Homo sapiens: one gene and its partners. The protein of the gene in region 4 purifies or fractionates together with the protein of the main gene of each other region. This does not show direct contact. Each region holds a gene or a part of one and is shown on either strand. Other genes may lie near its edges.

Region 1 (3,500 bases), on a different chromosome or scaffold from region 4:
CACGATCTTGGCCCACTGCAATTTCCGCCTCCGGGTTCACGAGATTCTCCTGCCTCAGCCTCCTGAGTTGCTGGGATTACAGGCGCCCGCCACCATGCCCAGCTAATTTTTTGTATTTTTACTAGAGACGGGGTTTCACCATGTTGGCCAGGCTGGTCTCAAACTCCCGATCTCAGGTGATCCACCTGCCTTGGCCTCCCAAAATGCTGGGATTACAGGCATGAGCCACCGCGACCAGCCTTAACTCTAACTTTCAAAGGCTAAAGGTGAAAAGATAATGGCTCCTAAACCCGACTAAAACATCAGAAAATGTCTTTTGTCTTTGATTTCTTTTCTTTTTTTGAATATAGGCAATCTATTTTCCTCCCTGCCCCTCTCTCCATATCCCTCCTCCCTGACTTCTTTTTTGTTCTTGTTTAAGGAATCAATCCACGTGGACAGGGAGAAGGGGAAGGGAGAACAGGCACCAAAATGCTACTGGATAGGAAAAAGAAGATAGGTGAATATGGGGACATGGAGAGGGCACGGACGTGGGCGGGCAGTGGAATGGCCCATTTATACTTAGGGTCAAGAACTGGGCCAGGCCTGGAGCATCTGCAATGGGTGTGGAGGCAGCAGAGACAGGAAGTCTGATTTTCAAAGACATCTAAGAAGCAGGACAAGTTCCAGCTCCTGTCCCACCCTGGCAGAAGACAGGTGGCTCCATCTCTGGAGAGGGTGGAATCAGGGTCTCTGACAGAGGAGCCCAGATCCCCCTGGGACAATCAGGTTACTGATTAGGCTACAGCCCTCGCTCACTGGGCTCCAGGATGCAGGCAGCCAAGCCTCCCCTTCCTGCAGGGACCAGGGAGAGTCTTGTGACAATAGCCCGGGAGGACCAACCCGCAGCACTAAGGTCAGAAGGCCCCAACAAGGAAAGGTTCAGCTCACAGAAGGCAGTGCCCATCCCTACAGAGTCCCCCACTCTTAAACATGGGCAGGCCATCTGAGGAGAGCCTCACACAGAAACGGGAAGGCAGCCTAGAGGAAAGAGATCCTTCAGTAAAGAGAAAAGAAAACAAATTTTTTAAAAATCCAGAGAATATACCATGAAATGAAGACCATGTTTTAGTTTTTTAAAAAAGTTCACAGAACAAAAAAGAACTCTTATACATGAAAAAGTATGGCAAAAATAAAATGTAAAAAAATCACTAGAAGAGTCTAAATACAAAAATGAGGAGACGTCCCAAAAGTGCAACAACCTTAAAATGGTAGAAAATAGGAAATAAGAGGATTGGTCCAGCAATCCTATATCAGAATAGTAGTAGTCCCAGAAAGAGATGAAATAGAAAATGGGAGGGGAGAAAATCACCAAAGAATAATTCAAGAAAATTCCCATAACTGAAGAATAAGTGTTTCTGGATTGCCAGGGCACAAAAAATGCCCAACATGCTGGATAAAATACACCAAGGCCTAGCACTGTGGATCTTGGAACACCACGGATGTATCAGTCAGGGCAGGCATTGTTAAACTACAGCAATGAGCAGCCCAAAAGCCCTCAGAGGCCTACAACAACCAAGATTTATTCTTCAAGTTTATTTCAATCGAACAGGGTCATAGCATGGGTGGGAGGGGGTTCTGCAAGCTGAGTATCATCATTGTCAAGCTGAGTTCAGAACCTAACTAGAGGGAAGGAAAACTCTGGCAGCAACTTACACTCGCAGCGAAGTGCAGGCCCAGAAGTGGAAGTAGCACTTCCGCTCAGCTCCTGGGCAGGCCACTGGCACAACAACCATGTGAGGCCATCAAGCTCAGGGAGTGAGGAAGGGAGGGCAATCCTACCAAGAGCCTGGGGGACAGGGGGCTGGACATGTGTGGCGAGCACTGACAACTAGACCCGAAAGGAAGATGCTACAATCTTCAGAAAGAGAAGGACTGGCTTGAAATTCTTCAACAATACTGGAGGCCAAAAAGGATTGGACCAATGCTTCAAAAATTCTAAAGGAACTTTTTTTCTATAATTCTACACTATCAATCTATCAGACATGAAGGCAGAAAATATACTTATGGGTAAAGTCTCAGAATTCACTTCCCATCACATCCAAACCAGGGAGTGAAACAAGAGGGAGTCAGGAAGAGGAAGTCAGGAAACAGAAGTCCTGCAGTGGGTAGGTCCAGGCTGATGTGGGTGCAGGTGGTGAGGCTGGCAGCTGACCCTCAGATGTATCCACAAGTTGCAGTAGAAGGCCCCGGGGCCCTTCTTCAGGAAGGGGTGCTGACCAAGGGGCATCCTGATGCTCATGAACATCATGGGGGAAGACGCGACAGACAACTGGCAAAGAGTTTGGAGTTGGATCTGTCATACTACATAGAAAGCAAGCAAATTAGAACACCAGCCAATTATTCGCTGGAGAAAACAAAAAGTAACCTACAACATGACTCACTAGGAACAGCATTTACATAGTCATGCTTGTAAACACTGCATGATGAGCTCCGTGAGATTATACCACATCTATATAGGAGGGTGGAGAGCATGTACAGGGGCAAAGAGAAGAAAAAAATCATCTCCCAAAGAACAAAGTCACTAGGTAATATCTACAACTGAAAAATCAGGAAGCCAGGTGATTCAATGGCACAATGATAAATACCAAAATAATCAACTAAAAGAAGTGAAATGCCTAGGGGTTGGGTGCGGTGGCTCACGCCTGCAATCCTAGCACTTTGGGAGGCTGAGGTAGGCAGATCACCTGAGGTCAGGAGTTTGAGACCAGCCTGACCAACATGGAGAAACCGTCTCTACTAAAAATACAAAATTAGCCGGGCGTGGTGGCGCATGCCTGTAATCCCAGCTACTCAGGAGGCTGAGGCAGGAGAATCGCTTGAACCCAAGAGGCCAAGGTTGCAGTGAGCCGAAATCACGCCACTGCACTCCAGCCTGGGCAACAAAAGCGAAACTCTGTATCAAAAAAAAAAAAAAAAGAAATGAAGTGCCTGCTTCTGGGGAGAGGGAAATGGTGGCAGGGGATACTGTTTGGCCCTGCAGAAGCTATTTAACTTTTTACACTATATGCATGTTAAAAAAAAATACGTTAAAGGTAATTCAAGCAGTCTGCCCAGGAGCTACCTAGTAGGTTGGCCTGATTTTTGATTCAGCACAAAGGGCAGAAACTGAGTTCTTTCAATGAGCCATTAGCACTGCTATAAATGTTTCAAGGGCTGAAACACATAAGACACAATCCCTGTCCTCAGAATCGGGATTTCATTGAGAAAAAAAAGCCAACATATGAATGGGAAAGAACTCAAGTACAATGCAAGTTAGCAGGTGGTCAACCCTAAGACATGAAGAAGAGTTATGTGGTATCAAGGAGGAGACTCAGGGCCAGAGTAGGTAACAAAGACTTTGGGAAAGATGTAAGGAGGAGAAGGAGAAAGGCTAACAGAACTTGAGTTCTGTTCCCGAAACAGGGAGGGCATTTCTGCAACGGAGGCTGGCTAACAGTGAGGGTGTATATAATTGGGAA
Region 2 (2,833 bases), on a different chromosome or scaffold from region 4:
GCCTCAGCCTCCCAAAGTGTTGGGATTACAGGCAGGAGTCACTGCACCCAGCATCATTCATTTTAAAGCTCTGAAATCTTTTGATTGCATTGGGGTACTGAGATGGATTTTTTTTTTTTTTTTTTGAGACAGGGTCTTGTTCTGTCACTCAGGCTGGAGTACAGTGGCACAATCTTGGCTCACTGCAACCTCTGCCTCCTAGACTCAAGCGATCCTCCCACCTCAGCCTCCTGAGTAGCTGGGACTACAGGTACACACCATGATGCTCAGCTAGTTTTTTAATTTCTTGTAGAGACAAGGTCTCACTATATTGCCCAGGCTGGTGTCAAACTCACGGGCTCAAGTGATCCTCCCGCTTCAGCCTCCCAAAGTGCTGGGATTACAGGTACCAGTCACCACACCCAGCAGATTTTAAAAAATACCTGTTTATCACAAGAAAAACATATTTAAAAAATCATCATTGCAAAGCTCCACACTGTAAGAAGCATGGATCAGTCAAATTATCTTTTAAAAGCCCTCTTTAATTCCAAGGAGATAAAGAAAGTTATTTGTCATTAAACATGTTACATGTATGACTAATATTTATTATAGCTAATATAATAGTTTAGAACAAGGAAATTTAGTAGAGTTGTAACATTTTGGTGCTACATGTATAATTCAGCATAAGCCAAAGCCTTTTTAAAATAACCAATACTATCATTTTATGAAATCTTTACAAGATAAGCACAGTAGTACAATATTTAAGCATCTCAAGTCTCCATTTAAGAGTTGACTATCAAAGAATGACTGTTATAAATAAAGAGCTCTATGATGTTCCACTTATTTAGTCTTAATAAGGTAGGGAAATAAGTGACATACTTTTTAGAAGAATCCATGCAGTGGACAGAAAGTCAGATTAGGTAGTCCCTAGGGATCCATCCAGCTCTGGGAATCTATCATCAGATGGCCTCTAAGGTTTCTTCTAGCTCAGAAAATAGAGGTACTTGGAACATAATTTTTTAAATTTTAAATGGTTATATAGGTTAATAGTATTTTTTGCTTTTCAAAATTCATTGCTGGTGATGTCTATTACTTATTTGATGTCATGTCTTTGGCCAGGAATGCAATCCTAATTAGCATTGTTCCAGGAAAACATTTCATTTTATAGGGAGCATATCCCAGAAACATTAGAAAATACTAGTCCCAATATAAGTAACATTTACCAACTAGACTCTGGGCTACACTTTAAAATATCTGATGTTCAGCCAGGTGTGGTGCTTATGCTTGTAATCCCAGCACTTTGGGAGGCTAAGGCAGGAGGATCTCTTGAACTCAGGAGTTCAAGACCAGCTTGGGCAACATAGTGAGACACTGTCTCTACAAAAAAAAAAAAAAAAAAAATTAATTATAAAAAAAAAAGAAAAAATATATCTGATGTTATTTCTATCTCTCAAGTTCAACAATAAATAATCCAAAGTACATTTTTATTTGCAGCAAAATTTAAGACAGACAGTACTTTCTTTTTTCTTTTTTTTTTTTTTTTTTTGAGACAAGGTCTGGCTCTGTCGCCCAGGTTGGAATGCAGTGGTACAATCTTGGCTCATTGCAACCTCCACCTCCCGGGCTCAAGACATCCTCCCATCTCAGCCTCCCAAGTAGCTAGGACTACAGGCACTTACCACCATACCCAGCTAATTTTTGTATTTTTTGCAGAGACAGTGTTTCACTATGTTGTCCAGGCTGGTCTCGAACTCATAAGCTCCAGCGATCTGCTTCAGCCTCCCAAAGTGCTGCAAATACAGGTATGAGACACTGTGTCCAGCTGATGGTACTCATAAAAGTAGGCATCTAAACTCAATACCTGAAAAACAAATGTGATGTTAAATTACATCTGAAATTTTAAAAATGTATTTAAAAATCCAAATAAAGCTTACAATTTCCTTATTTCCTTTATTTTAATGTGTCAAAAAAACACTTAAAGATATTCTTGTAAATACATATAAGCTGTGTGTCAACATTCAGTACTATGCAAATCATTTTTCAATATGACAAAATGAAAAACTTACACACTTTAGGGTAGCGCTTAATACTTATCTTTGAAATCTATTGCTGATGCTAGGTCTAAAGAGCAATGACTCAACCAGAAAAAATAGTAAAGGCTGCCTTTTCCTTTTTAAAGTGCTTATTAGCTTTATATCCAAAAACAATGGTTTTTACAAATACATAATACTGAAAGGTGCTCAAAAAGTCACCACTTACAGAATTGAACATGTCATTTTCTAACTCTGCACATGTAAACTTGTTTTATCTGCATTAATGAAGATTGCTTCAAATGGCTCTCAATCATATGCTTCAAATCAAGACAGTGCTAAGTTCCAGCAGCATAAACAGTGACAGCAGAACAAACCCCAGCACATTTTCAGTGGATCACAGCAGATCAGAGAAAGTGTAACAGCTTTTGAGTATGTTATACATCCAAGAGCCTTATATTTCACTCCACATAAACAGTAAACATAAAAGAAAAAAGAAACACTTTGTCTCCCTATAGAGCATTTTATAGTATAGGAAGGGATTCAAATTCTCTTTTTAACAAAATTCTTGTTTCTATATAGAGGAGATTTTATATTCTTAATGTTTACAACAAAGCCTATTTCCACCAAAAAAGCAAGAAGAAATTAATAAATGAAATCCTGAACTCTAAAAACCTAAGAAATAAAACTGTGAACAATTCTGAAACGGAGTGTTTTTTCTAAAGGCTAATACAAACATACCAAAATAGAATTTCTGAGCACGAACTATGTGATTTCATTTCAATCGTATCACTTTCATCTGATTGAAATAATTTAGAAACAAT
Region 3 (3,500 bases), on a different chromosome or scaffold from region 4:
TTATGAATCTGGGTGCTCCTGTATTGGGTGCATATATATTTAGGATAGTTAGCTCCTCTTGTTGAATTGATCCTTTACCATTATGTAATGGCCTTCTTTGTCTCTTTTGATCTTGTTGGTTTAAAGTCTGTTTTATCAGAAACTAGGACTGCAACCCCTGCCTTTTTTTATTTTCCATTTGCTTGGTAGATCTTCCTCCATCCTTTTATTTTGAGCCTATGTGTGTCTCTGCACGTGAGATGGGTTTCCTGAATACAGCACACTGTTGGGTCTTGACTTTATCCAATTTGCCAGTCTGTGTATTTTAATTGGAGCATTTAGTCCATTTACATTTAAAGTTAGTATTGTTATGTGTGAATTTGATCCTGTCATTATGATGTTAGCTGGTGATTTTGCTCGTTAGTTGATGCAGTTTCTTCCTAGTCTCGATGGTCTTTACATTTTGGCATGATTTTGCAGCGGCTGGTACCGGTTGTTCCTTTCCATGTTTAGCGCTTCCTTCAGGAGCTCTTTTAGGGCAGGCCTGGTGGTGACAAAATCTCTCAGCATTTGCTTGTCTGTAAAGTATTTTATTTCTCCTTCACTTATGAAGCTTAGTTTGGCTGGATATGAAATTCTGGGTTGAAAATTCTTTTCTTTAAGAATGTTGAATATTGGCCCCCACTCTCTTCTGGCTTGTAGGGTTTCTGCCGAGAGATCCGCTGTTAGTCTGTATTTTCTTATCTGTATTAGTTAGGGGTGGCTAACTGCTGTAACAAATAGATTCCACAGTGTATAATGACCCTAACACAATAGAAGTTGATTTCTCACTCTTACAGACAGGTCCAGATGACTCTAAGTTAGTGAGGTGGCAGCAGTGGAGGGCTCTGCACTACATAATTATTTAGGAATCAGGTTGATGGAGGCTTTGCTGTTTCTACCCGTGGCTTCCAAGGTCCCCGTGGGTGTTAGCATCCATGCTGCAGAAAAGAAATGATCACGGAGTTGAATAACAAGGGAGATTTTATAGACCAGGCCTTGAGCTAGCACAGTCCTAGTCACATTCCTTGGTTGGAACTCAGTTTATATGGCCACATTTAACTGTATGGGAGTCTGAAAAATGTGGTCCAGCTAAGGACCCAGAGGGAAGAGAAAATGGGTTTGGTGAACAGCTAGAGATGATCACATCATATTTAGGATATGTGTGATACCTCTGTATCCTTTTAATTAAGTTGCCATTTTTTTCTTCTACTTGTTTGTGTTGGCCTCTTTTATACCTTAATGATTTGGTGTTTTCATGATAGCCATCTTTAAAATAGTAGAAGAGATAAAAAGTGATTATTATTTTCTCAGGAAAATTGGGCCGATTTCCACCTATGATGCATCATCACCAGGCACCCTCAGATGGCCAGACTCCTGGGGCTCGTTTCCAGAGGTCTCACCTTGCCGAGGCATTTGCAAAGGCCAAAGGATCAGGTGGAGGTGCTGGAGGAGGAGGTAGTGGAAGAGGTCTGATGGGGCAGATTATTCCAATCTACGGTTTTGGGATTTTTTTATATATACTGTACATTCTATTTAAGGTAAGTAGAATCATCCTAATCATATTACATCAATGAAAATCTAATATGGCAATAAAAATCATTGTCTACATTAAAACTTCTTATAGTTCATAAAATTATTTCAAATCCATCATCTCTTTAAATCCTGCCTCCTCTTCATGAGGTACTTAGGATAGCCATTATTTCAGTTTCACATAAGAAATGTTTACTCAATGTTTAAGTGTTTTGCCCCAAAATTCACAACTAACAAGGCAGAACTAGGACTTGAACATGGATCTTTTGGTTCTTAATCCAGTGAGTGATACAATTCAATGCACTCCCCTGCCAAAAAAAAAAAAAAAAAAAAAAAAATTAACATCTTTACAGGCCGAAAAGGAATAAAGATTTTCTAAGAAGAGCTTTTATTATTGGGATTGGCACAGTGATTTCCAAATAGCCATTGTAAGGCCAAATAATGACACCACTTTATCCTGCTTGTTTCTCCACAGGAATTTGAGATGCTGTTTTTAATATTATCTCCAATAATTCTCCTGAGACAGAACTGTCCCTCCTGAAATTAAGCCTGATATTTCCTAGCTCTGGGGAGACATGGGTGTAGGTTCTTTAAAGCAGACCCCCAGTTGAGTTCCACCTCCAGGCAGGCCTTTGCAGGCCCCTGGCCCCTGTACTGTGAATTAGAGGCAGAAGACTCACTTTGCCCTCCTGTCTAGAGTAAGCTTAAATAAGATGAGTTCTTTCTCGCCCAGGAATTCTGCAGGCAGTCTGAGTTGAGTCTGTAAGAATGCCCATAGGGTGCCACACATCCCTTTTAGATGAGCATGAGCAAGGAAGATGACCTGTAGGGAGATTTTTTTTCCCTTGTGTTAGAAATGCTTGTTCTCTGGTGCCATAAAGAAGCAGCACTTGGACGTACATTTAATTTCCTCAGCAAGGCCATTTTTACTTTCTGCAGAAAGGGTACACTCACCAGCGGTTTTGCCGTGAGAGTACACCGAACAAAGGAGACAGGGTCATTTATAACCTGACGCATCCACCTTACTGCTGTGTCCGGTTTCCATTGGCTGGAACGGGACCTCACATTCTGTATTTGTGCTGATTGGCTAGCGACTTAGAACTTTTTAAAAGAGGCAAAGGCAGAGGAGAACAAAGGAAGGAGGAACTAACTTGTGGAATGCTGAGAAAGGTAAAAACACCTTCATATAAGGAAGAGGAACAGGCTATGACCTCATGCTTGCTTTGACAAGTATAAGCATGCCAGGGCAAATATTTAGGCTAAACTGTGGGAGCTAAGAACAGTTGATTTCTTTATTATGGCTAGCAGATATCTAAGCATGTTAGCACAGGTTCTTGAATAAATTTTGCTTCTAAGAGAAGTTACTATTCCTAATTATATGGGGAGTAAAGTCTCTTTGAAGAGGAATCTCTACTTTACTTTTTACACTTGTGCTTTGATAATTTTTTACTTGGAAACCTCATCTTTTGGCGTTTTTTTTTTTGAGCTATTTCTCTAGTGTTGCTATTTGATTTAATTTCTGACCTTCATTTTTGTTTCCCAACCTTTTTTTTTTGTTTGATATGAGGGGTTCCGTGACTGAGGTTCTGAGCTGCTGTTGATGTGCTATACCTCCTTCAATTCTCAGCTCTCAAAGGGGAAAACAACTGCAGAGGATGGGAAATGCTATACTGCCATGCCTGGAAACACCCACAGGAAAATTAGTAAGTGCCCCTTCTCAGTATATTCACAGGTATTATTGAGTCAAACAGTTTTATAGCCACAGGGACAGTCTGTGGGTATGTCTTAAAAGCATTTCTCAAAAGTTGCTCCAAATTAATCTGATGCCATTTTTGCCTTAGTTCTGGGAATTCTCAAAAGTTTTTATATTGATGTACTACAAAAAGTACAAAACCACCAGTTCACTTTTTAATATATTAGCAAATTAATATTTCACGTTTGGAATGACT
Region 4 (3,500 bases):
AATCTTCTTCTTTAAGTCAAAGTTTACACATTGCAGTACCACCTCTCCCTTCTCCAAAGTCTTAATACCCAATAAGATCTAACCTTCCAGTTCTTCTCAATCTGCTTGTAAGTTTTTTTGATGGCGGGCAACAGGACTCGGGGTGCAAGTGTGGTAGCCAGTGTCTTTTTAAGAGATGTGAGACGGATATTAGCCTGTGACGCAGAACCCATTTCACTAGTGATTTTCTCCAGATGAATCACCTACAGGAATATAAAAAAAGTGATCAGGGCCACTGCAGATCTTCGCTGACAAACACACACTTACAGAGAGGCTTCATGATGAGGTACTAGTGTTTGGAAAATGCTTAGCACTTTTTAACTACACACAGAATTCCTTTTAAAGTCAGCCCTAAACGTCAGTGGATAAAACTGGGCAGACACCTCTTGCCCAACTTGCGATCAGGGACGAAGGCCGATGGTAGACGCAGACGCACACACAGCACCCAGACAGATGATTTTCTTAGAGGACAGGAATGCAAGGGACCACGGCAAGAGTCAAGTTGCTAAAAAACTGAGAAAGCTCCTCAGAGCACAGGCCCCTTTCTCTGAGAAGGCTACTTTTAAACCCTGGCTGTGGTGTAAGTGAAGCGGTTTAATCATTTGCCCCATGGTAATGAAGGCTCCTAACCTTGTAAATGGCAAATGATCAACACAATGGAACAGCCAGGTCTCAACATTCTTGAGCATCTTCAATCATAAATACCACTGGCCCCTAGCGTGTTGACAGGAAACCGCTGACGTGCAATACAAAAATTCTGCTTTGCAAGATGCCTTAGGATTATACCTCTCACAGTAGAAACAGGGCCCATCAATTTCCACAAGTAATAAAAGGCGGCTCTACCAGCCCAACTCCAAAGATCTCACAGAAGAAAAAAAAGCCAGAATACATTCCGCACAATTAAAGAAGAGAAGCATCTCGCTAAAAAGTGACCCCCATATCAATTTCAAGATTAAGTGGCAAGGATGATGGAAGAGAAAAAGTACACATTTAATAAAAGCAAGCACATCTCTTCAGAAATAAGACTCCTTTCTGTCAAACGGAAACTAACCCTTAAAGAAAAAACAAAATCACTACATTTGTGATCTTTTACCTTCCCCAGCCACCCTGCGTAGCATGTCGTGGCTATCGTGGCTCACCTGGGAGAGAATGCCTTCCAGATAGGGGCTGATGAAGTGCGGGAGAGTCTCCACAACCTTCTGCAGAGCAGCCAAGGCACTGAGCAGGTAGACCTCGCTGGAGACCAGCTCGCTGGTGTTCTTCATTGTTGTCAGCAACGATGGCATCAGGCTAGAAACAAAGTAAGAGCTTTAGAAGAACTTGAAGCAGAAACAGAGGCTAGGGAATGGAGTAGAGGGCATTATGAAAAAAACCAGCAAACTGTGCCTATTACATCGCTATCTGCTTCATAGCCTAAAAAGCAGTGTCTATACATTTTATGTGGCTAAGCACAAGAAATCTCCCAGTGCTAACAGTACGGACACAACAGTAATTTAAAAAATAACAATGTCTTTCATTAACTGAACACTTACTATGTGTCAGGCACTATGCAAAACTCCTTGCAAGCACTGCCCTACAGAAATCCTATGAGGTAGATACTGTCTCTGTTTTATAGACAGCAAAGCTCTAACAGGTTAAGGAACATACTGGCTGTACAGTAAGGAACTACCACAGCCAGGAGCTTCTAACTTCCAAATTTGGCAGCAGAAGGCAGCTTTGGCCTTGCCTAACTGGGTGGGCCCCTCTGCCAAGAACCTTCACCCACTGCTTTTTGACTATACTAGACAAAAGGAAGGAAGAATGGAGGACGATTAACACTGCAAAGTAGTGCATCTGAAGATAAACGGGAAGGCTGCATCTTTCTGTTTGAAGATTAATTATTTTTATTATTATTTCTTTAAGAGACAGGGTCTCACTCTGTTGCCCAGGCTACAGTGCAGTGGTGCAGTCATAGCTCACTGCAGCCTCAAACTCCTGGGCTCAAACGATCTCCCTGCCTTGGCCTCCCAAAGTGGTGGGATCACAGCCGTGAGCCACCACACCCTGCAAGATCAATTCTTTAACAAATTCCAATTTTATGCAACGTCTACTCAGAGGAAAAAAAAAAAAAGTCACCAAAGTGTTATTTTTCAATGTGTGCCAGGCGGTAACAGCTCCTGTTCCAAGTCTCCGGCCGCATACCTGGGAAGCTGGGGGATGGCCAGCGCCTCCAGGGTGGAGGTCACCTCTGCTATGCACAGCAGCGCGCTTCCCAGGACATTCTTCTCCTCCTTTCTCTCTGGAGCAATCAGTTTCACAGCAGTGTTCAGCACTGGGACAAAAGGATCTGGATTTTCTGCACCAAAATTCTTGCATAAAAGCTTTAAGGTATACAACGCTGTCTGTCTGTTGATTGCTTGTTCTTCTTCCCCTTCCTTTTTCTTACGCTGCACAATGGCCAAAAGGTCTGGAACCAGTTTTAGGAAACGGGTAACCTGAAGGGGACAGCCAGAATCCCCAAATCATTAAAGCTGCAAAAAATGTTTGTCCATTTTCCCATTGTCACAGCTTGAGATTGTCTAAATGGAAATCAGACTCGGGGGTCCTGAGTCACACAGTCATGCTAAGCGATGTGCATGTTCTAGCCAGTGTTTCACTTATACAAAGCACCCACTGATCTGGAGTAAAAGGGACTTAGAACTATGCTAAGGCTAAGGCCACGTAAGCTCTGTAGTAAGCAAGAATTCCACTAGGCTGAAATTCCATTCTAAGAGCTCTTACAACACACATATATTCCCGTTAGAATTAACGTCACATTTTAAAACATGTCATGGTATTATATTCAGAAAATAATATACTTCAATTTGAAATTGTACCACTAGAGAAATTGAAGGGAGTTAAATGCAGCTCTTTGATAAAGCAAAGTACAGTAAATGGGTGTGTCCTGGGTCTTCACTCACTATTGTCTTCTTCCAGGATATATTTTGCTGCAGCTTGTTATTCAAAAGGTCCAGCGCTTTGCGGCGAACAGATGGCAGGGGATTGCCCACCAGCCCTCTGATCACAGGAATGAATGTCTCTGTGGGCAGCAAGGCATTGACCTAAAGAGAAATTTTATATTTAACATGAAAAGAAAAACAAATTAAAAAAAAAACCAACTTCAATTAAGACAGACTGCTGTCCACTGCACACCTCCAGGCACCAGGCACTTCCACACACATTTTCTTATTTAATTCTTAAAATAACCTTTCAGGTAGGCATTACCAACCACACATTATCGAACAAAACAAAAGCCTGATGTCAGGAGGAAGTGCCAAAGGCATGCAGCTAAATGACTGAGCTAGATTTGAATCAGCAATCCTAACTTCGAGGCCAGTGATATGTATGTAATATACTTCATACTTTTATTTTATTCCACTTGAATAAAGTAGAACAGTATATATTATATGACTTAATTATTAAAATATACGAGGTACATGTTC

The links. The genes of interacting proteins can lie anywhere in the genome.
Region 1: the proteins of HEATR1 (region 4) and UXS1 purify together in Homo sapiens (co-immunoprecipitation; one large-scale study listed by IntAct). This does not show direct contact.
Region 2: the proteins of HEATR1 (region 4) and OSTM1 purify together in Homo sapiens (co-immunoprecipitation; one large-scale study listed by IntAct). This does not show direct contact.
Region 3: the proteins of HEATR1 (region 4) and RIC3 purify together in Homo sapiens (co-immunoprecipitation; one large-scale study listed by IntAct). This does not show direct contact.

Annotation. Positions count from the first base shown.
Region 1 is NC_000002.12:106,187,802-106,191,301, forward strand, and holds part of UXS1 (UDP-glucuronic acid decarboxylase 1), read right to left. Parts: intron 1-3,500. UniProt on the Homo sapiens protein: Catalyzes the NAD-dependent decarboxylation of UDP-glucuronic acid to UDP-xylose. Necessary for the biosynthesis of the core tetrasaccharide in glycosaminoglycan biosynthesis.
Region 2 is NC_000006.12:108,040,909-108,043,741, forward strand, and holds the end of OSTM1 (osteopetrosis-associated transmembrane protein 1 precursor), read right to left. Parts: 3' UTR 501-2,833; downstream 1-500. UniProt on the Homo sapiens protein: Required for osteoclast and melanocyte maturation and function.
Region 3 is NC_000011.10:8,138,026-8,141,525, reverse strand, and holds part of RIC3 (protein RIC-3 isoform a precursor), read left to right. Parts: intron 1-1,332; coding exon 1,333-1,559; intron 1,560-3,178; coding exon 3,179-3,254; intron 3,255-3,500. UniProt on the Homo sapiens protein: Molecular chaperone which facilitates proper subunit assembly and surface trafficking of alpha-7 (CHRNA7) and alpha-8 (CHRNA8) nicotinic acetylcholine receptors.
Region 4 is NC_000001.11:236,556,017-236,559,516, forward strand, and holds part of HEATR1 (HEAT repeat-containing protein 1), read right to left. Parts: intron 3,120-3,500; coding exon 2,979-3,119; intron 2,514-2,978; coding exon 2,221-2,513; intron 1,330-2,220; coding exon 1,179-1,329; intron 243-1,178; coding exon 84-242; intron 1-83. UniProt on the Homo sapiens protein: Ribosome biogenesis factor; required for recruitment of Myc to nucleoli. Involved in nucleolar processing of pre-18S ribosomal RNA. Required for optimal pre-ribosomal RNA transcription by RNA polymerase I.